Homo sapiens: one gene and its partners. The protein of the gene in region 4 interacts with the protein of the main gene of each other region in a biochemical or structural test. Each region holds a gene or a part of one and is shown on either strand. Other genes may lie near its edges.

Region 1 (7,349 bases), on a different chromosome or scaffold from region 4:
TTTGCACATGATGTTCCCACTGCCTGGAGTGCTCCTTTCCTGGAACATTCCACATGGCTTGCTTTTCCTTATTTACATCTTAGTTCAATGGTCAGATAATAATTCTCTGTCCACTTCACCTAGTGAAGTACCTTAGCCACCAGAGACTCTCGGCTATTTGCTTTCTTCTTCTTCTGCGTAGCACTTATGATTCTCAGTTTATTTTGGTAATATATTTGTTGACATTCATTTCCTGTCCTTCCCTTCATGTATGTTCCACAGGGATAAGGACTCGGCTTCCTTCGCTTTGAGCCTACCCCAGAGCCTGGCGCATGCTAAGTGTCCTCTTCATGTTTCTTGGGCCTGTGCATGAAAATGCTCCCACCGCTGCTGTTGGTGTTTGGATGCAGACAAGCTCGGAAAAGCAATGAAGGGACCCGAGACAGAGGAGAGGAAGGAGAGAGTAAGCAAACTTTCTCTACTGAGGTGCCTCAGAAAAAGCCTCAAGAACCTGGAGATGATGCTGAAACCCTGAATCAACACATAATAGATCAATTCATCTAACTAGAAGAGATTCATTCTGGAAGGTGAGGAAGAAAGTAATGCATAGTTCAATGAGTTAAGCATTTGGAACAGTTTCAGTAGACATACAGTAAATATTTATCAAATAAATAAATATGCCGAACCCTTATTTTATGACCATTACTTTGTGTTATATAATCTGTTCATCCTCATAAAACATTATCACCATCTTGCAAATAAGAAGCTGTGCTACCAGATTAGGAGATTTGCCCGAGGTCATATAAGACTCGTCAAAGGTCATACAGCGATTCAGAGACAGAGCTGACTACCCTACTCTCTAAAACAGCTCTATTCGAAGTTGTAAAGGCCATATTCCCTGTCCCCTTCCCTGCAGTGCCATACCACCTGTTACCACTGACACACTGTGCATTTATCTGCTTGTCTGTTTCCTCTCACCACAGCATAAATTCCCTAAGGGTAAGAATCTTCATTTTGTTCACTACCCTTTTCCAGAGCCCAGAACAGGGCCTGCCATGTAAGTGGCACTTCATGAATGCTTACTGAATGTTAAAAGGATGAATGAAGGGATTATTTAAAAATCCTTATTTCGGCCAGGTGCCATGGCTCATGCCTGTAATCCTAGCACTTTTGGGAGAGTGAGGCCAAGAACAGGAGTTTGAGACCAGTCTACATGACACAGCAAGACCCTGTCCCTACAAAAAATTTAAAAATTAGTCAGATGCGGTGGCAGGCACCTGTAGTCCCAGCTACTCAGGAGGCTGAGGCAGGAGGATGGCTTGAGCCCAGGACTTTTGAGGCTGCAGTGAGCTTTCTCGCACCACTGCACTCCAACCTGGGCAACAGAGCAAATCCCTGTCTCTTAAAAACAAAAAACAAAAACAAAAAAGTTTCTCCACCTCTGAGGGGCAGTTCTGTAAACTTGTGGCTGACAGATGACTCAAATCCAGGCAAGAAGGCTGGAGGCCATCTGTGAGGAAGGAAAACTGTGGCCTGCTGAATGCTCTGGATAATCAGAGGGAAGACTGTATCCACAGAGGACAGACTCGCTGCATGGAACCTGGCGGGAGAGTAACCAGGGAGCTGGCATTTGTCCAGTCTCAGGCTCTGACATCACCCCTGTGGTGACATGGGTGGGCATGAATGCCACAAGCTGGCAGTGGCTCTTCTCAGGATGTGGCTTCCCACATAAAGTGGCCCTAGAGGGAGAATGTGATGACCAGGTCCCTGTGGCAATAACAAGTTTGATGTAAGTGCATAAATAGGCACTTACCAGAACATTTCTTGTGAGCCAGGCATGGTAGTTCACGCCTATAATCCCAGCACTTCAGGAGGCTGAAGGGGAAGGATTGCTTGAGCCCGAGAGTTTGAGACCAGCAGCCTGGGCAACGTAGAGAGACTCCATTTCTAAAAAAAAGGAAAAAAAAAAAAAAGTTAACGTTAGCCGGGCATGGTGGCACACTCCTATAGTCCCAGCTACTTGGGAAGCTGGGGTGGGAGGATCGCCTGAGTCTGGGAGGTCGAGGCTGCACTGAGCCATGATCATGCTACTGTACTCCAGCCTGAGTGACAGAGCAAGACCCTGTTTCAAAAAAAAAAAAATCTTTTGTGAATTGTGTTAGAATGAGTGAGTCGTTCAAGCCTGGCAGCTCTGGCTGCTGGACAGAGGCTCTGAACCAGCCAGGTTGGGTTGTGGATAGTCCCTTGAGATAGTTCTCTGCCCACTGACCTTCCTCTGTGCCTAGGCTTCTCAAAGTATAGACTTGCGACTGGGCTCAGACTAACCACATCAGTACCACCTGAGAACCTGATAGAAATGCAGATTCTCCTGCCCTGTCCTCTGATCTACAAAATTAGAAACTATAGAGGTGAGCTCCATGGTTCTGGGAATTAACAAGCCCTCCAAGTGATTCTGATGCATGTTCAAGTTTGAGAACCACAACTAGTTTCCCTTTCATAATAGTTACTACTTTGCAAGGAGTCGGATGGGGTTAAGGTAACAGGTTGAGAAATTCATAATATCGTGCAGGCGGTCTTTTTATAAGTTGAGTGAGGACTGGATCAATGACTCTCAATGGGAAAGGCCAGGGGTTAGGGAGGAACCTCCTTGCATTTGGAAAATCTCGAGGAGGGGTTAATTTGCAAAAACAAGTTTTAAAGTTATAGTTTTGCTTCCTAGACCTGATTTTTAAAAATTTATTATTTTTTTTAGAGACAGGGTCTTGTCACATTGCCCAGGCTGGTCTCGAACTCCTGGCTTTAAGTGATCCTTCCCCCTTGGCCTCTCAAAAGTGCTGGCATTACAGGCATGAGCCACGGTGCCCAGCCCTTAATTTATTTCGAAGGCTGGTGTAATATAAACATTAAAGGAAGGTGTAATACAAACTGCCATCCATTATTGATTGTTTTAGTGTCTACAAGGTTTGGATCCCACCTCCTGTCCAATTCTCATCCTCAAACACAAAAACAAAACCAAAAAAACAACTGTCTATCTACACACACACACACACCCTCGGCTGGCCTGAGAGGTAAAAGAAACATCCCATAGGACCTGCTGAAAGAGCTCCTGAGGCACGCTGGAGCCTTTCTTGTGTGCCATGCACTGTATCTGGCACTATAAAGAGGGTACAATAGCTAGTGGCTTCTGCAATCAAGCAGCTTACAAGAGAAAATTGAGAGGGGAGACATTTTTTCTGGTTGACAGATGTCGAAAGCATGAAGGTGTGGGAGCTTTGATCAGAGACTTGGTTTTTCAGTTTTGCCAGATAATAGAACGCATGGGGTGAACTAATGGGAGAGGAGGGTGAACAGATGGGCAAGGCTTGATTGCTGGGTTAGGAGGCACAGAAATGCACAGAGGACAAAGGACTACCAGTCCTTGGCAGTACTGTACTGCTCCATGGCCACTACCTGGGTCCAGGGCCACATTCAGATCTGAGGTTAGATAGTAAGAATTGCTAACATTTATCCAGCGACCACATGTGCCAGTAATCAATCTAGGTGCTGTACATGTATTAACTGATTCTTCATAGGAACCCTATTAAAGAGTTATTTGATGAGGAGAGTCGGGCATTCACTGGAAATCGAACGTGCCCAAAGTCTCACCCTAGACCGTGGTGGAGTCAGAATTTGAATCCTGGCCACTTGCTCCGAAGCCACCGACAATTCAGTGTGCTGTCCCCCGTGTCTGGGCTGGCTTGGTGGGCTGGGAATGGCGGGGGAATGGGACACTTATTTTGGCAGGTAAATGTGGTTCAGAAGAAAGCTCTTCGTCTTTCTCCAAGCCTGAGCAATCGTTTTGGCGCAGGCAGTCCAGAGTAGAGCGCTTTGTGAGCCAGCTACAGAAGTGCTGTAAGCCCCTTCCCACTAGATGGCAGCCCCTAAACCCACATACAAATCCTGGAACCTCCCTGGTCCCCATCTTCCAGGGCTGGGCTGCAGCTGAGGAACTGCGGGACGCACACCCGCCGGGCGTCCAGGGGGCGCCGCCCCATCCGGGGGTCGCGGGAAGCTCCTAGGCCGGGTGGGGGACGGAGGCGGACGGGGAGACGCTGCTCCCCCGACTCTCGGCGCCTGGGGGAGGAGCTGGCGCGGAGCAGCTCCACCCGGGGCTCCCGGTTGGGGCCGGCCCTCACCGCCTGCCTCGCCGCGGCCGCCGGGAGGGGAGGGGAGAGGAGGGCAGGGAGGGCGGCGCGGGCGCGGTCCGGGGCCCCGAGGGCGGAGGCCGGCGGCAGGTGCGCGGCGTGGACTACAAGTCCCAGCATGCCCGGCCGCCCTGACCCAGCCCCCGCCGCCGCTTAAAGGCTCCGGGAGCCGCAGCCGTCGGGTCGCCGCGGCTTTCGCTTTGCTGCCGCGGCTGGGAGGGTGGAAGCGGCAGACTCAGCGGCCGGCTCTACCGGCGTCCCGGCTCGGGCAGCGCCGAGGGGCGCTCCTGGTCCAGCTCTCCTGGCTCGGGGGTTCCTTGCCGAGGCGCCCGCGCCCCGGGCTCCCAGCCTCGGCCGCCGCGGCCCCGATGCCGAGGCATGGATAGAGCAGCGCTGCGCGCGGCGGCGATGGGAGAGAAGAAGGAGGGCGGTGGCGGGGGGGATGCGGCGGCCGCGGAGGGAGGCGCAGGGGCCGCGGCCAGCCGGGCGCTGCAGCAGTGCGGGCAGCTCCAGAAGCTCATCGACATCTCCATCGGCAGCCTGCGCGGGCTGCGCACCAAGTGCGCTGTGTCCAACGACCTCACCCAGCAGGAGATACGGACCCTGGAGGTAAGTGGGTCGGGGACCAGGCTGGGCTCGAGGAGCGGGCCCGGACACCTCCCTCCGGGCCCCAGTACTCCTGGCCGAGTTGCATCCTTGAGCCCGCGTCGCCCCCCTTGGAGGCTTCCCCTCCCTCCTGCACTCGCTGATGCGGCAGCCGGAGGACCCGGGACCAGCCCTCATCTTGGGCAGGATTTGTGGGGCGGGTGCGTCGTGGGAACTGGGATGGAGGCTCGAGGGGCCCGTGCGGGGTGGGCTGCGCGCGGACATCCCCTTTCCCCCCTTCTCCGCCCCCACCCCATTTCCAGTTTGCGGGGCCGCAGGACTCGTTGTCCCACCGAGTCACAAGCTGGACTTTTCCCCGTGTGACTGAGCCGAGCACCCGTGGGCCAGGGTGACGGAGGAGGTTCCCCTGAAGCGTGATCGCAGGCCTGCCGTCCCCTGTTCCCCTCACGCCCCAGACGCCGTCCTGTCCCTTCCTTTCCTCTCCTCTCAGGTCTTGTCTGCCGCCTTTTCAAAAAGTGTTGCTGAAACTGCATTTTTGTTATTCAGGCGTTTGGTGCTTTCCTTTCACGTTGCCACGGAGGCTCGCTGCTTAAAATGTATTAATAATTACCCGCTGACTCCCCCTGCTTCCCCCCAAAGATTGGATTTAGGCTTAGGAAGGATTATGCTGGGAAGCAAGCCTTTGGTGGGAAGATGAAACTGTTTAAAGGGTTCTGATGGAGACAGTCTGGAGTGTAAAGAAGAAATAAGATATGCGGGCCTTCCTCTCTCAAATTATAGCTGGGGAAGTATCTGAAGGATTTGGAAAAACCAGCCCGAGGGTTGTTGGGGCACCCTGTCCATACACAAATGAGGGCAACTAGTGGATTCTGAATGTGATTTTGGCCAGGGACGGGGCGGTGAAACGTCAGACCAGTTAATAGCTGCCCCGTCTTGAAGAAGGAACCTCTCACCATCTTGCCCTGCCACATCTGGCCTCCTGCAGGTCTGGGGATGTTTTGTTTTATTAGATCCTCAATTTCTCCTCCCCCAAACCCTCCCCCCGCCCCTTATTGCTAATTGCCTCTGCCAGCTGTCATAAGGCCCTCTGTGATCGCGGTAATTATTACAAGACCAATCCTTCCTCCAGGCATGCCACAAAGCCGAATCCTTGTTTGATTCCAAATGCTCGGGGGTGACTCTCCCTCAGTTTTATTTTCTTAAAAGCTATAAAACCACAGGACATTGGAAGAATACAGTCAGTGCTGGGTATTATTATTTTTTATTACAGTTGGCTAAAGCTGTACTGACCAAGGCTTTGCTTAAAAAACAAACAAAACCCCCTACAACTGGCCTTTCTGCATGCATGCTGCAGTTTTCCAAGTATTGAGAGAAACTGATTTTTTGAACACAGCTGAGTGTGTTTGCTCAGCAAAGTTCAGTTTTTAAGCTGACAACAATAGGGGGCCTGTGAGGCTCAGTTCCGGGAGGAGGGGTCGCTGTCTGGCAGAGTGTGCGTGGTTGGACTTCGGTGTTGCTGGGCTTGGAGAATGCTCTCTGTGTTGGCCTCTGTGGGATTGTCCCCACGTTGCTCTGAAGTGCTCCTGGCTTCCAGAGTGTGTATATAGGAGAACCACTTGCTGTGCATTCTCTGGAATGGCCTTTTGTCCTACCCTAACTTCCGGAGTCCCTCATTTTGATGGCAGTGTGGCGTTCATGACACCCCAGAGCATCCAGCTATTTAAGTGTTGGAGCTGGTTTATTCAGTGGCTTCCCTCCTGAGTGTTTGTTTAGACGATCATCCCTGGCAGCAGAGAACCCATCCAAAGGCCCACAGGGGATCTGCAGCTCCCTGTTCTTCCCACCGTGATGTGGATTCGGGTTCACTCCACTTCCTGAAAAGGCAGGGCCTGGGTTGTTTTGGGGGATGGGAATTTAGACCCCTGGAGTGAGTTCCATGGGGCTGCCACCAGCTAGTTTAGATGAGTCACTTCATCCCGGAGGCCTCAGCCTCCTCACCTGCAAAACAAGGAGGCTGGAGTGGATCTCTGAGGGCTCTGGAAGCTCGAAATTCTCTAGGTTAGAGAAGGAGACTTGGTTGGGTGAAATCAAATGTTTGTGATTGTTTTTATACTACCCTGGTTTAAGAATAACCCTCTTTAAGAATGGTTCTAAAATCCAGATTTACTGAACCCATAACATAGGGGTTAAGTTTATTAGAAGAATCTTTGCCATAGGAGCAGCGTGGTGAATAGGAAGCCCCATGGCTTTCATACTGGGCCTGGGTTCTGTCTGTGTGACCTTAGGCAAGTCCCATGACTTCTGAATCTCAAGCTCTCCTGTCTGTAAAATAGGAACGAGACTGCTCACACCTGCAGCATTTTGTCTGTCAGTCCGTGCTGATACTACGAAAAGAGTCTGCCTGGCAGCTGCCCCTAGTGAGGGTCCAGTAGCATTTATGGCACAGGCCACCACTAGGGAAACTTAACCCCTACTGGACCCTTGCTAGGGAAACTTAACCCCCTACTTTATGGGTTCAGTAAATCTGGATTTTAGGGAAAGGTACTTCTGCAGCTGCCTCTCATTTCATACAGGTGGGTG
Region 2 (7,458 bases), on a different chromosome or scaffold from region 4:
AAAACTGGTGATTACTTCTAGGAAGAGGAATGGAATAGAACTATGGACTTTTACTTTACCTGAGTAATTTGGAATTTAAATAAGACTGATTAAGAAGTAAAAAAGAGCCGGGTGCAGTGGCTCACACCTGTAATCCCAGCACTCTGGGAGGGCAAGGCGGGTGGATCACTTGAGGTCAGGAGTTTGAGACCACCCTGACCAACATAGTGAAACCCCGCCTCTACTACACACACACACACACACACACACACACACACACACACACAAACTAGCCGGGCGTGGTGGCAAGTGCCTGTAATCCCAGCTACTTGGGAGGCTGAGGCAGGAGAATTGCTTGAACCCGGGATGCAGAGGTTGCAGTGAGCTGAGATCGCACCACTGCACTCCAGCCTAGGCAACAGAGTGAGACCCTGTCTCAAAAAAAAAAAAAAAAAAAAAAAGGAGGTAAAAAAGAATGATGAAAACACTAAAAATCATATCTGAAAAGTTTTTAACATGATAAAAAAAACTATATTGAACAAGGAAGAAAATATTTGCAAATCATAGATGTGATAAAGACTTGTATCTAGAATGTATAAAGAAGTCCTACAACTCAAAAAGACAGCCCAATTTAAAAACAGGCAAGGCCGGGCGCAGTGGCTCACGCGTGTAATCCCTGCACTTTGGGAGGCCGAGGTGGGCGGATCACTAGGTCAGGATATTGAGACCATCTTGGCTAACACGGTGAAACCCCGTCTCTACTAAAAACACAAAATATTAGCCAGGCATGGTGGCAGGCGCCTGTAGTCCCAGCTACTTGGGAGACTGAGGCAGGAGAATGGCGTGAACCCGGGAGGCGGAGCTTACAGTGAGCCGAGATTGAGCCACTGCACTCCAGCCTGGGCGACAGAGCAAGACTCTGTCTCAAAAAAAAAAAAAAAGAAAATTAACAAGTGCTATGAGAGGTGTGGGGAAATTGGACCCCTCATAGAGTACTTATGGGAATGTAAAATGGTGCAGCACTTTGAAGTTTGGCAGTTCCTCAAAAGGTTAAACATAGTTACCACTTAAGCCAGCAATTCTGCTCCTAAGTATATACCCAAGAGATATGAACACATACATCCACGCAAAAACCTGTCACATATGTTCACAGCAGCATTATTCATAATGGCCAAAAAGCGGGAACAACTCAAGTGTCCATCAAGAAGGCCAAGTTTTAAAAAAAGAAAGTCTCGGCCGAGTGCGGGAGTGGATCATCTGAGGTCAGGAGTTCGAGACCAGCCTGGCCAACATGATGAAACCCAGTCTCCACTAAAAATACAAAAATGAGCCAGGTGTGGTGGCCGGCGCCTGTAATCCCAGCTACTCGGGAGTGTGAGGCAGGAGAGTCGCTTGAACCCGGGAGGCAGAGGTTGCAGTGAGCCGAGACCGTGCCATCCCCGGAGGCAGAGGTTGCAGTGAGCCGAGACCGTGCCATTGCACTCTAGCCTGGAGGACAGAGCGAAACTCCGTCTCAAAAAATAAAAAAAAAGAAAAAGTCTCGTATTAAGGTCCACAAAGCAACTGTGCATTCACTAATTAAATATCAACTCGTAAGAAAAAAGTGGAGGAGGGAGGAATACTTCTATTAATATGGAAGTTAAATCTAAATCATACAGGCTTTTTGACAAGGTAATCGTATTTTAGAGACCATTCATTTACGAGAATAACCCAAAGGAAGGAAAATGAGACGCAGATAAACATATTCTGAGTAGTGCTATTTTATAATAGTAAATACTGGAAGGAATCCCAGTTTCTCACAATAAAGTGGGTAAACTCTGGTTATAAAAAATAAAAAAAAAACTATATAGTGTTTTTATATTGTATTTAATAAAAATGTCAAGCATGTGGATTACATCCATAACTAAAATTGGATAATTATTCAATCACAAAACACACATTTAAGCAATATACAAGGTAGAGAGAGACACCTGAGAATAAAAAATACTGTGCCAGAGCAATGCTTCTCAAACCTTAATGTGCATAAGAATCATCAGGGAATTTACAAGCTTTTTCATTTTAGCCTTGTTTGGTTGGGCTCAGGCATTATCTCTAAAATGAGATTCTAAGGTATGCCTATCAAGTTAATTGCTGTAGTGCACTAAAATGGCAATACTGTGTTTCTGCAATGGGACTATGAATTTGTTTTAACTTTCCAAATTATTTATAATACTGCAATGTACTATATAATAATGCTGTATGGTATATTACATAATGATTAAAAACACAGGATTCTACCGAGGACAAGAGAAGTTGGTTAAAATCAAAGCCAGTAAGTGGGCAGAATCAGAACTGGACAGAACGATCCGACTCCAAGGCCAGCATCTTAACTTCAAGCTTCTCAAACTGCGGCAACGCACATTCTCCTGGGGCGGCATTTAACACCGACAATAATGAAACTGGACCTATAACCGAGCAACGAGTTAAGTCGGCAAGGACGGTTTCTAGAAGCTCGAGACAAGAGAAACTGGGGGCTCGCGGCTCCGCCCCCAGATCGTCTCCCCGCCCTCGGGGGCGCTCGGGCGGAAAAGTTTGGAGGCGCGACGGCCCCGGGGCCTTTCTACTCCCCAGCCTTCACGCTCCGTTTCCTTTACTTCGACCTTCATCTCTGTCGGCCTCTCCCAACATCTCGGCCTCCCCCGCGGACCCGAACAGAGGCAAAACAAACGCCAGCTACCCCGCCCCCGCCTCGGCCCCCAGGCCGAGCCCTCGCCTCAGGTCCGGGGAGGCCTCCCCCACAACCTCGGCCCGCAGGCCCGGCGCCCGCGGCCCGACCCCACTCACAAGAGGAAGCTCATCTTCGGTCCTCAGAGGGGAGGCGAGGGGCCCCTGGCCCCCGCCTGGATCAGGATTCGGAGCTGGCTAGAGGGAGCGGACCGTCCTTAGCTCACGGGCAGCGGAAGCCGGGCCGCCGCCGCTCGGAGCCGGGTTTCTGGCCGCTGCGAGCCTTTGCAAACCTCGGCGCCCGCCTTGCCCGCCTACCCCACCTCGCAGACCCGAAATGCGGAACCAACAAAATCTCGCGAGCTAAGGTTTCGCTGCGCCGGGAGGGACTTGTCGCGCCCCCTTTCGCTCCGCCTCGTCCTAGAACTCGGCCAATCATCGCTCTCCAAGCCAGGACCTCCCTCCCCCGGAGGCGTGGCGAGGATGGCGGTCCTGCGGAAGGGGCAGTGGCTGGTCCTGCTCTTAGAGTATCTTGGTGCTGCTGGGTTTCGATCCCGCTCCCTAGGTTATGCAGGGACCTCTATAAGCGCTGCGTACTCCTGCAATTTTTAAAATTGTTAATTTAATTTTTACTTGAAATATATTCACATAGCATAAAATCTGTCCTTTAAACATGTACCCTCTAGTGGTCTTTTTCGGTTTTTTCTTTCTTTTTTTTTTTTTTTTCTGAGGTGTCTCGCTCTGTCGCCCAGACTGGAGTTCACAGTTCACTGCAGCCTGGACTTCCTGGGCTTAAGTGATCCTCTCGCCTCAGCCTCCCGAGTAGCTGAGACCACAGGTGCCTGCCACCACGCCCGGCTAATTTTCTCAAAGTTTTTGCAGAGACGAGCGTCTCACTGTGTTGCCCAAGCTGGTCTTGGACTCCTGAGCTCAAGGGATCCTCCTGGTTTGACCTCCCAAAATGCTGGGATCACAGGTGTGAGCCACTGCCTCCGGCTTTGTTTATGTTTTCAAAGTGTGCCAACCATCAGCACTAATTTTTTTTTTTTTTTTGACAGAGTCTCACTTTGTAACCCAGGCTGGAATGCAGTGGTGCAATCTCGGCCCGTTGCAACCTCTGCCTTCCAGATTCAAGTGATTCTCATGCCTCAGCCTCCCGAGTAGCTGGGATCACAGTCGTGCGCCACCACACCCGTCTAATTTTTGTATTTTTTTTTTTTTTTTTTTTTAGTAAAGACGGGGTTTCGCCATGTTGGCCAGGCTGGTCTCGGTCTTGAACTCCTGACCTCAAGTGGTCCACCCGCCTCGGCCTCCCAAAGCTGGGATTACAGGCGTGAGCCACCGCGCCCAGCCTAACCATAATTTTAGGCCATTTTCATCACCCCGAAAAGAAACCCCATACCTATTAGCAGTTACTCTTTATTACCCACCTCCCTCCTCCCAACCCCTGGCAACCACTACTCTACTTTCTATTTCCATGGATTTACCTAATCTGGACATTTCATATACACTGTGAATGGAAGCATACATTATGTGGTCTTTTGTGACTGACTTCTTTCACTTAGCATAATGTTTTAAAACGCACCCATATTGTAGCATGTATCAAAGCTTCATTACTGGCCAGGCACAGTTGTGGCTTACGCCTGTAATCCCAGCACTTTGGGAGTCTGAGGCTGGCGGATCACTTGAGCTCAGGAGTTCGAGACCAGCCTGGGCAACATGGTGAAACCCCGCCTCTACAAAAACACAAAAATTAGCCAGGCGTAATGGTGTGTGCCAGTGGTCACAGCTATTCGGGAGGCTGAGGCGGGAGGATTCCTTGAGTCCAGGAGATGGAGGCTGCAGTGAGCCAAGATGGCGCCACTTCACTCCAGCCTGGGTGACAGAGCCAGATCCTGTCTCTAAAACAAAAAAAAAAAAAAGAAAAAAGAAAAAAACTTTATTTCTTTCTATGGATGAGTAATATTCCATTATGTGAATATACCACATTCTGTTTACCCATTCATCTGTTGAGGAACATTTGGGTTGTTTCCACTTTTTGTCTATTATTAATAATGCTGTCGTGAACATTCATGTACAGGCTTTTGTGTGGTATTAATGCCAAGTGACAGCCAAGCAACGCCTTCATTCCACCATGGTGGAATGAAGAAAACAAAAGGAAAATAGTGGGAGACTTCAGTCATAGCTCAGCAAATGGTGGTGCAGGGTGCTCAATGTAAAGGAGTTTGCCCTGTACCTGACTGCACAATGTTCATGTTTCCAGTAATTTTATTTCATTCATATATCACTTGTCACATTAAGTTAATGATGTTAGGGCACATGAGACTGTATTAAATTATATTTACTATTTCTTGAATATATTTTTCAGTCAGTTATGTAAAGCAAATTTACATACTCTTTTTCCTCCCCTGAAAAAAATAAATTAATAATTTTAATTTTTTAAACTTTTGTAGTTTTTTGGAATTTGATTTATAAATAAATGCGATTTGATATCGCTATATGGAAGTTACAAATATAGGAACACAGATTTAGGCCGGGCGAGGTGGCTCACACCTGTAATCCCAGCACTTTGTGAGGCTAAAGTGGGCAGATCACTTGAGCTCAGGGGTTTGGGACCAGCCTAGGCAACATGGCAAACCCCCATCTCTACAAAAAAAAAAAAAGATAGCCGGGTGTGGGGGTGCACGCCTATAGTCCCAGCTACTTGGGAAGCTGAGGCGGGAGGATGGGTTGAGCCCTGGAGGTAGAGGCTGCAACGAGCCGAGATCACACCACTGTACTCCAGCCTGGGTGACAAAAGTGAGGCCCTGTCTCAAAAAAAAAAAAGAAAAAAGGTACATCTATTTATACTTCTGTGGTAATTTATATTACTTAAATAATATCATAAAAACAATTTCCAAATAACATGGGAAAAAAGAAATTCATGAAAGGTTTCCCTCTTTCAATGGTATTTTTCTTCAAGTTGAAGAATCACTGAGGATAGAAGTCCAGCTATTTATAAGAAAAACCTTTCAGGATGGCTAAATTTGGTTGGGGTAGCAGGGAGGGAGGATTTCAGGGTTAGGGAAAAATCCTCAATCAATATTTAAGCACGATATCAACATAGTTCACTTAGATATCAAAGATAAGATTTTTCCAGTAAAAGAGAGAAAAAGAAATTGTTCATTGCTAATTGCTACAGGACAATTTGTTCCCTACCAGACAAGGTCTATACAAAGACCGAAGAAGTTTTATTCACTTCTTGGCTTAGCCGGCCAGAGATCACTGCACACCATCTGGTCACAGCAGATGCTGAAAGCAGAAGCTAAGCGGCAAATTATGAGGCCTCCAGGACTAGATCTTCTGAACCTCTCCCCACCCGCCTTTCATCACACACAGTTCCCCTTTCTAGCTCCCTGAGGCAGGATTTGCAACTCTGCATTTTCATTCTGTGTAAGTGCCCATCCTATCATTTGCAAAACTCCCGTTTTACCCTAACAACCTCACCCACACAGGGCATCTTCCCACTTTGGTCGCAGTAACGTTCCTGCCCCTCCCAGCCAGTTGGTGCTGTTGGGAGCTCAAGCTTTTTTTTTTTTTTTTAAACAAAAACAAACAAACAAAAAACTCTACTCCTGTGACAGATTAAGGAATTTTAATCTTTGTCACAAATAGGTGAAGAGAAACAAACAGTAAAGTTGCTAACCAGCCTGGGCAACATGGTGAAACCCCTTCTCTACAAAAAATACAAAAATTAGCTGGGCATGGTGACTTGAGTCTGTAGTCCCAGCTACTCTGGAGGCTGAGGTGGGAGGATCCCTTGAGCCCAGGAAGTCCAGGCTGCAGTGAAAGGAGACTGTGCCACTGCACTCCAGCCTGGGCATCAGAGAGAGACCCTGCCTCAAAAAAATAAAAATAAAATAAAATAAGTTGGTAAGCTGTCCCTGTCCATTATCTCAGTACTCAGGTTGCAGACTTTGCAGACTGTGAAGGAGAAATCCCAATTTATCAGAAATCAAAAACTCACTCAGCGGCTGGGCATGGTCGCTTACGCCTGTAATCCCAGCACTTTGGGAGGCCAAGGTCGGCAGATCACTTGAAGCCAAGAGTTCGAGACCAGCCTGGCCAACATGGTGAAACCCCCATCTCTACTAAAAATACAAAAATTAGCCGGGCGTGGTGGCGTGCACCTGTGGTCCCAGCTACTAGGGAGGCTGAGGCAGGAGAATCACTTGAACCCTGGAGGCGGAGGTTGCAGTGAGCCGAAATCGCACCACTGCACTCCAGCCTGGACGACAGAGCCAGACTCTGTCTCAAAAAAAACAGAAAAAGAAAAAAAAATACAAAAATTAGCCAGGCATAGTGGCGTGTGCCTGTAGTCCCAGCTGAGGCTGGGAGGCTGAGGCACGAGAATCACTTGAACCCAGTAGGCAGAGGCTGCAGTGAGCTGAGATCATACCACTGCACTCCAGCCTGGGTGACTGAGCAAGACTCTGACTCAAAAATGAAATAAAATAGGCCAGGCGCGGTGGCTCACGCCTGTAATCTCAGCACTTTGGGAGGCCGAGGTGGGCGGATCACCTGAGGTCGGGAGTTCGAGACCAGCCTGACCCACATGGAGAACCCCATCACTACTAAAAATACAAAATTAGCCGGGCTTGGTGGCACATGCCTATAATCCCAGCTACTTGGGAAGGCTGAGGCAGGAGAATCGCTTGAACCTGGGAGGTGGAGGTTGCGGTGAGCCGAGATCACGCCATTGCACTCTAGCCTGGGCAATAAGAGCAAAACTGTGTC
Region 3 (7,450 bases), on a different chromosome or scaffold from region 4:
ATGAGGCTTAAGCAGCAACCGAATGACATGAGCTGGCAAGAGCCCATGCAACAGAAAGCCCTCCACATACTGATGGAGCTGGGTGGCCCGGAGCAGTTCCTGGCTGGGGGTGGACCGCGCCATGGGCGGGGAGCTTTCCCCCTCCGCCTTGCCCTCTCCACTGGTCCCTAGGAGCAGCTTATGCAGCAGCAAAGAGGGATCCCTCTGGAAGAAGACATTGAGGATGTCGATGAGGCGGGTGAGGTTGTGGAAGACGTGCTCCTTGAGAGCCGGACTGTCCTCAAAGTAGAGTAGCTTGCCGCTCTCATGCAGGTAGGAGAGGGCACTCTGCAGTCGGTCCTCGGTCAGACCCGCCTGCAGGCCCAAGCGCGCCGAGTCCCACCAGCTTAGCCACAGTCGCTGGGCCTGAGGTGGCTGGAAATGCAGTTCCTCCAGCACCTGCCAGGATCGAGGCAGTACTCTGTGTAAGTTGGGGAAGATCTCTCGGTGCTCAGCAACTGACAGCAACTTGTCCCGAAGGCGTCGTAAGTGGCGCGGGTCCCTGCAGCTAACAGGCAACACGGGGGAGAGGATCTGCAGCCGGTGGTTGAGCAGGTATTGAAAATGGGCCTTGCGCCGTCGAAGGTTCTTGTCCGAAACGCCATAGTAGGCTGCGTGGGGGCTGGCAGAGCGCAGCTCGAAGTCCCGGGCCAGTGCCTCGTCCACCACCTTGGCCAAGCGGCTCAGTCCCTCCGCGTCGTGCTTCTCCTGCAGGGCGATCTGGCGGTGAATGTCCAGACATTTCTCCTCCAGCTCACGCTCTCCGCACAGGTCTGCGTGGGTGCCCACGATGCACACCACCGCGTGGGGCACTCTCGCCCCGACCCGATGCAAGAAGGAGCCCACGGTGGTAGGAAAGTGGCGAGGCTCATAGGTGGCCAAGTTGACCACCAGCACGTATAGGGCCCCTGGGGACAGGAAGAAGGGCTGGATCACCTCATAACTTTCATCCCCAGCTAAGTCATACACGATGAACCGCAGGCCCCGGGAGGCATCGGCCGTCCAGCTGGTCACCTCGATGCCCTTGCTCACAGGGGGAGGTGACGGTGGGTAGCACTTCTCCTTGTCCCCTCCTCCTGGGCATCCCTCCACTCTCTCCTCGGTGAGGCAGTGGCGCAGCAAAGTCTTTCCTGCAGCCTTATGCCCCATCAGGAGCAGCTTGAGCCGGGGCTGCACCGCCGGCTGGGAATGAGCCAGTTCCTTCTGGTAGGCTGCGATGTAGGGGATCCCCTTCATGCAGACCTCGTAGGGGGGCTGGATCAGTGGGTTGTCTTTGATCTTCCACAAACCCACCCGGGAGAGCTGGCCAAAGTGGTCGGGCAGCACCGCGATCTGGTTCCCCTGCAGCACGAGCTCCTCCAGGCCGGTCAGCTCCACGATGGAGTCCGGCAGGTAGCGGATGCGGTTATTATCCAGCCACAAGGTGAGAAGCCGGCCCAGGCCCGAGATAAGGGATGGCACCGAGGTGAGCTGGTTGCGACTAAGGTAGAGCTCCTCCAGACCAGCCAGGGGCAGCAGCGCGGCAGGGAACTCCTCGAAGAGGTTGGAGGAGAGGTTGAGCATTTTGAGCCGCTGCAGGCAGCTGAACTGGGCGGGCAGAGCCTGCAGCCCGTTGTTGTCTAGCATGAGGCTCTCCAAACTGGCCAGCTCGCAGAAGCCGGCGGGCAGCGTGCCAAGCTCGGCCCCACTCAGCCAGAGGATCTTGAGGGCACGCAGGGCACTGATATCCTCAGGCAGGCCCCGCAGCCGGTTGCTGGACACGTCCAGCTCCTCCAGGGCCACCAGCTGCAGCAGCTGCCGGGGGAAGGCAGTGAGCTGGTTGTGATCCACGTCCAGGGTGCGCAGGCGGGAGAGGCAGGAGAGGGAGTCAGGCAGGTGCGCCAGCCGGTTAAAGCTGACATCCAGCTCCTCCAGGTGAGCGAGAGCGCCCAGCTGGGCGGGCAGGGCGGGCAGCTGGTTGTGGCTGAGGTTGAGCTTCCGCAGCTCCCTCAGAGCACTCACCACCTCCGCGCCCAGGGCGGTCAGCCGGTTGTGGCTCACGTCCAGCTCGGTGAGGTGGTGGCCGAGCTCGGCCACCGCCGGGGGCAGCCGGGCGAAGCGGTTCCTGCGCAGGACCAGGACGCGCAGGCTGCCCAGCGCCGACCCCAGCCCCTCGGGTACCTCCTCCAGGCCGTTGTTCCCCAGGTTCAGTGCCTCAATGTCCCCGAGGTTGGCCGGCAGCACGAGCTGGGGGGAGGCGGGGGACTCGAGCGCGTCGGCCCCGGCCCCGGGGCAGGCCCCGGCGGCGGTAAGCGTGAGCTGGCGCAGGTTGCTCCGCAGCTTCCTGGCACGCAGGGCGGCGTCCCGCCACAGCCTCGCGGTCTTCAGGTTGCCACTGTCCATCCCAGCCATGGCGGGGCCCCGGGCCGACAGCCTCACGCGGACGCGGGAGCCCGCAGCTACATGCCGCGCCGCGCCCCGGGCCCTCCGGCTCCTGCCCCTGCCTGCCCTCCCGCGCTCGGCGGCCGGCGGCCGCGGGTCCTAGCGCAGCCAGCGGCCGAGCGCTGGCGGCTAGGGGGCGGCGGCGACGCGAGCGGCTCCGGGGGACGCCGAGCGCGTGGAGAGCAGCTTGCATTCTCCCTGCGGCCGGGCCATGGGCGCGCCGGGCAGCAGGGCCGCCGCCCGCGCGCCGCGGAGGATGCCTGCTCCTCCTCCCTCTCCGCCCGCCGCGCGGCGCCTCGGGGGGCCCGGCTCCGGCCCCGCTACCCTCGCAGCCGCGGTCCCGCGGCCGGCAGCGGCGTCGCCTCCTCGAGCTCCTGGGGGAGGGCGGCGCTCGGCCCGGCGGCGGGCATGCTGCGGGCGCAGGGCTGGGGCGCAGCCGCGGGGAGGGGGCGGCGGCGCCTCCTTGTCTCCGTTTCCCCGGGCTCGGGCGGGAGCGCGGGCGCCGCGTCCCCGGCGCTGGGAGGGCGCGATTGGGAAGCGGCAGCGCCGCCCGCCGGAGCGGCCCCCACGTGACCGGCGGAGGCGCCGCGTTTTCCCGGCACCGCCCCGGGGGCGGGAGCTGCGGAGGGCGCCGGGTGCGGGGCCGGGGGCGCCTGGCGCGGGGCCGGGTCCGCGCCCCGGACCATGCTGGGCGGGGAGGTCGTCCCAGCGGCGGATGTGGGGCTCCGGGGCCCCCCTGGTGGGTTCGCCCGCGCCTGGCTCTTTGTTGGCCCCCAGTCTCTAAGGATTTCTTTTTCTTGTTCTCTAATGCGTCGGATCCGCCGGCTTCCCTTACTCATCCTTTACCTGCTCCCCTGCCGCTCGCCTTGCATCCACGCCGTAGTGGAACTGGCACAACTCGGGGGCCCTGGGTATCATCATAGAAGCTTAGGACAAGAGTGTGGTTAAACAAAATTAGAACAGGCAACCATTCATTCATTTGGTAAATATTTCCTGAGGCCCTATTTCGTGTTGAACATGGGACAGGAGTAATGCAGGCTGGTCAGAGGAGAATAAAAAATACCAGGCAGCAGTTTCACTTGACTGGAGGCTATGGGCTGATAAGACCCTGAAAACCAGGGTGTGTACCAAGCTGGCTAAGACCGGCTGGACCCGACGTGGTCCTGGATTTGACCTAGGTTTCTCCTAGGCCTCCATTATACGCTCTTTAACATCCTAAGTCACACCAGTGCCATGACAATTCCGGGGACACCCATATTTGAAGTAAAAATGGGTGGCACCACAGTCCCGAAAAATCTCCACACTTTTCCAGGAATTTTCATGAATATTTCACCCCTTGGTTAAAGAAACCCATAAAGGTAGCAGCCCCAAGCCCCGTTGTGAGTGACCCTCTCCACAATCCCTTTTCCTGGGTGTGTACTTTTCCCTTTGCAATAAATCTGCATATTGTCACTATTTTCTGAGTTGTCCTTGAACTCATTCTCTGGATGTGTCAAGAGCCTGGACATTGGCTGGGGTCAAGGTCGCACTGGCTTTAGAGGATCTCCCCCAGCCCACCCGTACCAGAACTACTAAAAGACGGTTTTAACCCCCCTGGGGAAGGCTTTTGAGCAGGTGGCCCGCCAGCCTAAAGGAGGGTTGTTAAGATGGGGGGGACACAAGCTGTTTATCTGGGGTATCCCGTTTATCTTCACAACAACGCTGTGAAACAAATACTGTATCCCCATTAATACAGTACCTGTTGTTCTGCGGACTCAAGAAAACAGCTATTTTGGGAAACAGTCACAGTCCATTGTTCAACTCTAATGCTTATTTTTATTGCTGTTAGGAAATGTTTCTTTGAGCTCACATCTATGCTAAGTCAATAATTTCTCCCGAACTTATGAAAGTCTGGAAACCTACCAAGACTCCCAGTGTCACCTCCATCATTCCCTTCAGGTTGATTGATAAGGAAGCAAATAGTTTTCAGGGACCGAAAACTGCGTTCAGTTGGTTAAAGGCATCACTTGACCCACTGCAGCTCTCCCCGACATGCGCTATGGCTGTCATTTGGGGACCCATATTTGGTGCAGTAACGTGAGAAGTGTGTGTTTCCAAAAAGAGCACCTGAACATCTGAGGCTGGAAATCCACCCCAGTGATGGTTATCAGGCTGCAGGTAGTACATGCTGTAACTGGAGGATGTTCCCCAGTTCTGCTGGGTCCCTGAGGCTCTGACACCACAGATGAAATGTGAGTAAGTGAACAGCAAGAGCTGATCTGTGTTCACTCTGAAGGACTTCCGAGAGTTCAGATGGCTCAGGGTAGCCCCACCCACACTCCCTCCCAGAGACAGTCAATTTTACAACAAATATTCTGAGTTATCTAGGCTGACCCTTTTTTTCCCCCACAGAGGAGGAAATGGGCTCAAAGTAAGTGACTTCTCAATCAGCCATCAAAGTAGAGTAGAGGCAGGACTGCTAACTCCCCGTGTGGAATGTATTCCCCTGTGATCATCACCTGTACTCACACTGTTCTTGAGCCAGACCCCAAATTCTCCATCCTGCAGCTTCTTCTAACAAAAATATGAACTCAGCCTGGGTAAGGAGACTGGAGTAGGCATCACCATCCTACACCACCTTACATGATTATATCTCAATAACTGCTAACTGTTCCTCTTTAGAAGCCATCAGAAAATTATACTTCCTCCTGCAGAAGCTGAAATCAATTGAAAAAAATGAAAATTGTGCTTGCTTCAGCAGCACATATACTAAAATTGGAAAAATACAGAGAGGATTAGCATGGCCCTGCACAAAGATGACATGCAAATTCATGGTGTTCATTTATTTAATAATATTTTCATTTAAAAAATTATTTTAAAAAAGAAAAATGGCCGGACATGGCATCTCATGCCTGTAATCTCAGCACTTTGGGAGGCCGAGGTGGTGGATCAGTTGAGGTTAGGAGCTCAAGACCAGCCTGGCCAACATGTCAAAACCCCATCTCTACTAAAAATACAAAAATTAGCCAGGCATAGTGGTGCGCACCTTTAGTCCCCAGCTACTCAGGAGGCTGAGGCACGAGAGTTGCTCGAAACCAGAAGGCGGAGGTTGCAGTCAGCCAAGATCACACCACTGCACTCCAGCCTGGGTGACAGAGTGAGACTTTTTCTCTGAAGAAAATTATATTTTCCTTTCTTTTCTTTCTTTCTTTTTTTTTTTTTTTTCTGGAGATGGGGGTCTTGCTTTGTTGCCCATGCTGGACTCGAACTCCTGGGCTCAAGCAGTCTTTTTGCCTGAGCCTCCTGAGTAGCTGGGATTATAGGCATAAGCCACCCTGACCAGCTTATACTTCTATTTTAAATGTCCTTGGAAAACTGCACTCTTCATTTGTCAGGAGATCATCTATAATTTGCTTTATCTAATAAAAAGTACTGGCTAGGACCCTGCGCTAGGGGCTTCAAGCCCCACTAAAGCCCCAAAGCCTGGAGTGAATAAGTGTGCTGGGGGTGGCAATTCTTTGTGAGCCCCTCAGCTGATGCAGTCAATATAGTAGGAAGCCTTGTAAGAATCCTTGTCTATGAGTTCTTTGAAAGTCAGTATGTGAATGGGCACAGGGGTATATGCCTGTAATCCCAGCACTTCCAGAGGCTGAGGCGAGCAGATCATTTGAGCTCAGGAGTTCGAGACCAGCCTGTGCAACAAGGCAAGACATCATCTCTACAAAAAATACAAAAATTAGTAGGGTGTGGTGGCGCACACCTGTAGTCCCAGCTACTCAGGAGTGACGCGGGAAGATCACTTGAGGCTGGGAAGTGGAGGCGGCAGTGAGCCAAGACTGCACCACTGTACTCCAGCCTGGGAAACAGAGTGAGACTCTGTCTCAAAATACAACACAACACAACAAAAGAAAGTCAGTATGCTAAAAACTAGAAAGTCAAATGATAAAAGATAACTCAATGATAAAAGAAAACTCTATGAAAAGATATTGTGTTCCATATAGCTTTAAAATTTTTTTTTCTTTGTGCTTTCCACTTTCAAAGAAACTGCTTCGTAAAGAACTATAGAAATGATTCCTGGGCTGGGTGCAGTGGCTCACACCTGTAATCCCAGCAGTTTGGGAGGCCGAGGCGGGCAGATCACAAGGTCAGGAGTTCGAGACCAGCCTGGCCAACGTGGTGAAACCTCATCTCTACTAAAAATACAAAAATTAGCTGGGCATGGTGGTGGGTGCCTGTAGTCTCAGCTACTCAGGAGGCTGAGGCAGGAGAATCGCGTGGACCCGGGAGGCAGAGGTCACAGTGAGCCGAGATCATGCCACTGCACTCCAGCCTGGGCAACAGAGCAAGATTCCATCTCAGAAAGAAAAAAGAAAGAAAGAAAGAGGATTCATGAAAGTATCATCTTTTCTGTTTTTTCATTGAGACAGGGTCTGCTTATGTTGCCCGGGCTGATCTCGAACTCCTGTGCTCAAGTGATCCTCTCAAGTATCAACCCAGGCAAGGACTCCTGCCGTGGGCACCTAACCTGGCCCTCCTCTCACCATGCTGTACCCCGTGTGGTTAAGTTTCTGATGGGCCAAGGGGGCACGCCCCCTCCACCTTCTAGAACACACATGGTATGGAGGACCCTGAATTCCCAATGCAAATAGCCTCAAGCCTGGATGGGGAGCGTGGGGCAGTCTTTCATAGTCATTCGAAAGAAGTTATTGAGGTGGGCATCCCTAGACCTGGGGGTTGTGCAGGAGCTGGACCTCAGCTGTGTGCCGACGAAGCTCCTCTCTGTGCTGGATGTAGCCCAGGCTAGGGCAAGGAGTGTGAATGTGCCACATCTGTTAGGGTGATGTAACACATTTAGATATTTAGGCATGTGGCATGTGGGCCTTCCCGTGTACCCTTTCCCCAGGCCCTGCAAAGGATAAGCGTGGCCCTGCAAATGGTAGGGTTTTTCTAAAAGCAAAAACAACAACAACATTGTTTGGAGAAGAGGAACTCTATTATATAAAGTTTTCTT
Region 4 (7,022 bases):
AAACTAGGGGAGGAAGCTTTTAGTGAGCTCAAGATAAATCAGGCCAGGCTCAGTGGCTCACACCTGTAATCCCAGCAATTTGGGAGGCCAAGATGGGTGGATCACTTTAGGTCAGGAGTTCAAGATCAGCCTGACCAACATAGTGATACCCGTCTCTACTAAAAATACAAAAAATTAGTGAGACGTGGTGGTGCACGCCCATAATTCCAGCTACTCAGGAGGCTGAGGTACGGAGAATCGCTTGAAGTCGGGAGGCAGAGGTTGCAGTGAGCCAAGATCACACCACTGCACTCCAGTCTGGGTGATGGACTGAGACTGTCTCAAAAAAAAAAAAAGAAAAAGATAAGTCAAAAGAAATGATCCAAGCCTAGATAAAAAGTGATTTAACTGAAAAGAAACATGTTAAAAAACAACAGCAACAAAAACCAAAACAGAGCCTCCAAGAATTGTGGACTGCATTAAATGAGCTGCCATGAGTTTAACTGGAACCCCACAAAAAGAGAGCAAACCAGCAGGGGGAGGGGGGGGAAGGGCGGGGGGGTGTCGCGGGCAGTGGAAACATTAGAAGAGAAAGATGCTGTGAATTTTTCATACATTATTTAAAAGATCATAAATCCCAAGAAGCTCAGTGATTCCCCCCTACAAAAGCAGTATAAATACAAAACACACAAAAATGTACACATATCCCAAGATGTTAACATCTTTAACCTGCTATAAAAAACGAATGATATGGCCGGGCATGGTGGCTCACACCTGTAATTCCAGCACTTTGGGAGGCAGAGGCAGGTGGATCACGAGGTCAGGAGATTGAGACCATCCTGGCTAACATGGTGAAACCCCGTCTCTACTAAAAAAATACAAAAAAAATTAGCCAGGCATGGTTGCGGGTGCCTGTAGCCCCAGTTACTCAGGAGGCTGAGGCAGGAGACTGGCATGAACCTGGGAGGCAGAGCTTGCAGTGAGCCGAGATGGCGCCACTGCACTCCAGCCTGGGAGACAAAGCAAGACTCTGTCTCAAAAACAAAAAACAAAACAACAACAACAAAAAAACCAAATGACACATGCCTGTAATCCCAGCACTTTGGGAGGCCAAGGAGGGCAGACCACTTGAGGCCAGGAGTTTGAGACTAGCATGGCCAACATGGTGAAACCCTGTTAAATACAAAAATTAGCCAGACGTAGTGGCGGGAGCCTGTGATCGCAGATACTTGGGAGACTGAGGCATGAGAATCACTTGAACCCGGGAGGTAGAGGTTGCAGTGAGCTGAGATGGCGCCATTGCACTCCAACCTGGGCGACAGAGTGAGACTCTGTCTCAAAAACAACCGCTACCACCACCAATGACAGCCTGGGCACAGTGGCTCAGGCCTGCAAATGCAGGATTTTTGGAGGCTAAGGTGGGAGAATTGCTTGAGTCTAGAAGCTCAAGGCTATAGTGAGACAAGCTTGTACCACTGCACTCCACTTGGGCAACAGAGCGAGACCTTGTCTCAAAAAAAAACAACAAATAAAATAAAATTTAAAAACCACTGATAAAACATATTTGATACTGACAGCAGAAAAAAGGAACTAAATAAGAATCACAGCCAAATTCTTATTTGAAACTGTGCAAGTCAAAAGATAATAAATAGCATCCTTAATATTAGAAAAACACTGTGAACAATAAATTTATATCCAGCAAAATCTTTCAAAAGAAAAAGTGAAACAAAGTATTTGTGAAACAATCTTTGGAACTTTGTTACCAGTAGAATTGAAGTCCAAGAAATGTGAAAGGAAGTTCTTCATGCAGAAAGAATAAGCACTGGAAAAGAGGCCACTATAACACAGAAAATCAATTTTAATTTAACTTGTACTAACTACTTTAAATTCAAATTTAAATAGCTACACTGGCTAATGACTACCATACTAGACAGCACAGGAATAAAACAAATATTACAAGGTATTATGCATTTATGGCATTTGTAAAAGGTAAAACAGTAATAGCACAAAAGATAAGGAGAAATTGTAAATATACATTGTAAATATACTGTTGTAAAGCTCTGACACTATATAAAATGTGGTATAGTATTGCTTCCATATGGTCTATTATTAAAGATGTAAAATATAAATCACAGAGAAGCCAATTAACTTTTTAAAAGAGAGGAAAAGTTGAGTGTAAGTAGTGAGCCAATGGTGAAGATAAAATGCACTCAAAAATAGGCATCAGAGAGCACATAAGTAGAAAACAATTAAGATTGTATATTTAAATCCAACTACATCAAAATTACATTAAATGTAAATAGTCTAAACACTTCAATGTAAAAACAGATTTTTCAAGATGAATTAAAAAAGGCTGTCTAGAACAAACCCATTTTAAATAAAAGACAGATTAAATGGATGGAAAATAATATACAAACACTAAAAGGAGGCTGGAGAGGCTGTATTAATATTAGATAAAGTAGACTTTGGAATGAGGAATACTATCAGAGATAAAGAGGGCATTATATAATGATTAAGGGGTTCATTCACCAAAAAGTTTTAACAATCCTAAATTTACATGCACCTAACAGGAGGTTCAATACACATGATGCAAAAACTGAAAAGGAGAAATAAACAAACTTACCATTATACTTGGAGACTTCAACTCTTCTCTCAATGATCAATGAAACAAACAAAAACTCAGTAAGGAAAGAGAAGGCCTAACAAGCATCATCAATCAACTTGATATAGAATACTCCACTGCTAAACAGCAGAATACACATTATTTTGAAGTGTACATGGGACATTTACTGAGAGTAACCATATTCTGGTCATAAAACAAATATCAAAGAATTTAAAATAAATTATACAAAGAAAGAGACATGCAAAATCACCAAATATTTGGAAATTAAACAGCAACCTTCATGGGTCAAAGTGGAAGTGACATAAGAACTTTAAAAAAAATCAGTGCATCAAATTTGTGTAAGCACCTCAGGCAGTGCTTGGAAGGAAAAGAAAAAAGGTCTCAAGTCAATGACCTAAGCTTACACCTTAATAAATTAACATAGAGGAATTTAAACCCAAAGCATATAGAAAGAAATAGTAAGAAGCAGAAATCAATAAAACTAACAATTAAAAAAAAAGCAATCAAATAAAAAGTTGACTCTGAAAAGATTAATAAAATAAACCTAGAACCAAATAAAAATGAGAGGTCACACTGCTAATAACAAGAATGAAAGGAAAGACACCACTACAGACGTTATAGGCATTAAAATAATTAAGAAACAACTTTATGACAACGAATAAATGAAATAAGACAAATGCCTTGAAAGACAAAAACTACTAACGCTCACTTAGTGAGTGAAAGTGATTCATACAAAGACCGAAAGCTTTCAAGAAGAAATAGATAACCCTAATAATCCTGTATTTATTAAAGGATAATTGGACTTATCCTTTGAAGCCTTCCAGCAAAGAAAACTCTAGGACCAGAAGAGTTCACATGCAAACTCTAAAAAAAATTGTAAAACAAATAATACTAATCCTAATAAATTCTTTTTCAAAAATATAAGAAACACTTTGCAACTCTATGAAACCAGCATTATATGAAAAAGTATCTTTCATGAACATAGATGCAAAAAAAAAAAAAATTTCACCAATTTATAAAAATGATAGTAGATAATACACCATCACCAAGTGAGGTTTAACCACAGAATGGAAGATGATTCAACATTCGCAAATAAGTTAACGTAATTCATCACATTAACACAGAAACAAACCATATGATCATCTCAATAAATACAGTAATAATACCTGACTAAAATCAACATCCACTCATGATTTAAAAAAAAAAAAAAAAAAAACTCTCTGCCAGGCGCAGTGGCTCATGCCTGTAATCCCAACACTTTGGGGGGCCAAGGCGGGCAGATCACGAGGTGAGGAGTTCAAGACCAGCCTGGCCAACATGGTAAAACCCCATTTCTACAAAAATACAAAAAAGTTAGCCAGGCTTGGTGGCGTGTACCTGTAATCCCAGCTACTCAGGGGGCTGAGGCAGAAGAATCACTTGAACCCAGGAGGCGGAGGCTGTAGTGAGCTGAGATGGTGCCACTGCCCTCCAGCCTGGGCAACAGAGCAAGACTCCATCTCAAAAACAACAACAACAACAACAACAACAACAAAAACCTCTCAGCAATCCAAGAATAGAATGGGAACATCCTCAATATGATAAAAGGCCACTTGTCTTAGTCCATTAGGACTCCTATAACAAGCTCCCATAGACTGAAGTGGCTTATAAACAACAGAAATTTATTTCTCGGCTGGGCGCGGTGGCTCACACCTGTAATTCCAGCACTTTGGGAGGCCAAGGCAGGTGGATTACCTGAGGTAAGGAGTTTGAGACCAGCCTGGCCAACATGGTAAAACCCCGTCTCTACTAAAAATACAAAAATTAGCCAGGCATGGTGACATACGCCTGTAATCCCAGCTACTCGGGAGGCTGAGGCAGAATTGCTTGAGCCTGGGAGACCGAGGTTGCAGCGAGCTGAGACTGCCACTGCACTCCAGCCTAGCCGACAGAGCAAGACTCTGTCAAAAAAAAATAGAAATAAAAATAAAAGAAATTTATTTTTCACAGTTCTGGAGGCTGGGAAGTCCAAAATCAAGGTGCTGGTAGATTCAGCGTTTGGTGAGAGCCACTTCCTGGTTCACAGACTGCAGTTTTTTCACTGTGTTCTCATACGGCATAAGGGGATAGGAGCTCTCTGGGACCTCTTTTATAAGCACACGAATCCATTAATGAAGGCAGAAGCTTCATGACCTAATCACCTCCTTGAGATCCCCCTCACAATGGGGATTATGTTTCAATGCTATGAATTTTGGAAGGGACATAAGCATTCAAGCTATAGCACCACTCTATCACACTCAATAATGAAAGATTCAAAGCTTTCTTCTTAAGATCAGGAACAGAGAAGGATATCTGCTTTCACCACTGCTATTCAACATCATAATGGAGGTCTTAGCCAGTCTAAGAAGAAGAAAAGGTGGAAGGAGTTACATATAAATTCAAAAATAATAAAACTGATCTATATTTGCAAATAACATGATTGTCTACATAGGACAATTCCAGAGAATCTACAAAAAATTTACTCAAATGAATGAATTTAGCAAGGTTGCAAGCATCAAGGTCCATATGCAAAAACCAACTGTATTTTTACATATAGCAGTGAATAACTGGAAACTAAAATTTAAGAAAATTATCACTTATAATGGTATCAATTATTAAATACTTAGATATAAATCCAACAAAATGAGCAACATCTTCATGCTGCAACTACAAAATGCTGACAAAGGAAATGAAAGAAGACCTACATAAATGGAGACAACCTGTATTCATGAATTGGAAGACTCAAGATGTCGATTCTTCCTAAATTGATCTATGCATTCGACACAAACCAAATTAAAATCCCTTCAGGTCTTTTTGTAGAAACCAACACGCAGCCTCTAAAAGCTTTACGGTAAAGTTAGAATAGCCAAGGCAATTTTGAAAAAGAATAAAGTTCAAGGATTCATATTACCTAATTTCAATACTTATAAGTAAAAATAACCATGATAACTCAGTACTGGCAAAATTATAGGCATAAAGATCAAGAGAAAAGTACAGGAACAGATTTACATATATGATCAACTGACTTTTGACAAAGTTAATTCAATGGGGAAAGGAAAGTAGTCCCAACAAATGGTGCTAGAACTACATATACATTTGAAAAGAAAATGAGCCTTGACCCTTACTACACACCATATACAAAAACTAACCCAAAATGGATAATGTGCCTTGACATGAAAGCCAAAACTAGAAAACTTATAGAAAAATCCTAAGAGTAAATCTGCACAACTTTGCATTAAGCAAAGAGTTCTTAGAACACAGAAGCACAAATCATAAGAAAAAGTTGGTAAGATGAATTTATCAAAATTAAAAGCTCTTCTTTTAAAGTTAGGAAAATAAAAAAAAAACAAGCTTCAGATTGCAGTGTGTGTGTGTGTTTATGTATCTCTGTGTGTCAAATGAGTTGTATAAAGAATGTATTAAAAAATGCTTACAACTCAATAAGACAAACCCATTTTTTTTTTTTTTTTTTTTTGAGACGGAGTCTCGCTCTGTCGCCCAGGCTGGAGTGCAGTGGCACGATCTTGGCTCACTGCGAGCTCCACCTCCCGGGTTCACGCCATTATCCTAACTCAGCCGGAGTAGCTGGCACTACAGGTATCCGCCACCACGCCCGGCTAATTTTTTGTATTTTTAGTAGAGATGGGGCTTCACCGTGTTAGCCAGGATGGTCTGGATCTCCTGACCTCGTGATCCGCCTGCCTCGGACTCCCAAAGTGCTGGGATTACAGGCGTGAGCCACCGCGCCAGGCCCACCCATTGTTGTTTGTTTGTTTTTTAATGAGCAAAAAATGTCAACAGATACTTCACAAAGGAAGACATACACTAGAGCAAATTCTCAGCACCATTAGTCATCTGGTAAATGCAAATCAAAATCCCAGTATGATACTACTATATACCCACTAAAAGGGCTAAAATTTAAAAGACTGAAATAACCAAGTGCTGAGGATGATGTGGAGCAATTGGAACTGTCATACACTGCTGATGGATATGTAAAATGTGACAACCACTCTGGAAAACAGTTTGGCAGTTTCTTATAAACATCCATGTATCATACAACCCAACAAGTTCCATGTCTAGGTATTTACCAAGAAAAAAAAGATGTTCACAAAAATTCAAAATAAATGAATGTTCATTGAATAAAGGAATGTTCAACAAATGAAGGCTATTTATTAATAACAGCCCCAAACTGGAAACAATCCAAGTATCTGTAAATAGGTGGAATGGTCAACAAACTAGTAAATCAATACCAAGGACTTCTATTCAGCAATAAAATGAGAACCCGTTAAATACAGAAAAACATGGATAATCCTGAAAAACATGCCAAGAGAAAAAGCCAGATACAAAAGAGTATGTATTACATCATTCCACTTACATGAAATTCTAGACAAAATGATACCAA

The links.
Region 1: the proteins of PJA2 (region 4) and KSR1 form a complex in vitro, tested with the Homo sapiens proteins (one study listed by BioGRID).
Region 2: the proteins of PJA2 (region 4) and MOB1A form a complex in vitro, tested with the Homo sapiens proteins (one study listed by BioGRID).
Region 3: the proteins of PJA2 (region 4) and MFHAS1 form a complex in vitro, tested with the Homo sapiens proteins (one study listed by BioGRID).

What each region holds. Positions count from the first base shown.
Region 1 is NC_000017.11:27,452,103-27,459,451, forward strand, and holds the start of KSR1 (kinase suppressor of Ras 1), read left to right. Parts: upstream 1-4,345; 5' UTR 4,346-4,541; coding exon 4,542-4,772; intron 4,773-7,349.
Region 2 is NC_000002.12:74,175,859-74,183,316, forward strand, and holds the start of MOB1A (MOB kinase activator 1A), read right to left. Parts: upstream 3,022-7,458; 5' UTR 2,817-3,021; coding exon 2,803-2,816; intron 2,457-2,802; exon of another isoform or gene 2,397-2,456; coding exon of another isoform or gene 2,257-2,396; intron 1-2,256. UniProt on the Homo sapiens protein: Activator of LATS1/2 in the Hippo signaling pathway which plays a pivotal role in organ size control and tumor suppression by restricting proliferation and promoting apoptosis.
Region 3 is NC_000008.11:8,890,629-8,898,078, forward strand, and holds the start of MFHAS1 (malignant fibrous histiocytoma-amplified sequence 1), read right to left. Parts: upstream 3,003-7,450; 5' UTR 2,431-3,002; coding exon 1-2,430. UniProt on the Homo sapiens protein: Probable GTP-binding protein. Functions in innate immunity and more specifically the inflammatory response as a regulator of the Toll-like receptor TLR2 and TLR4 signaling pathways.
Region 4 is NC_000005.10:109,399,967-109,406,988, forward strand, and holds part of PJA2 (E3 ubiquitin-protein ligase Praja-2), read right to left. Parts: intron 1-7,022.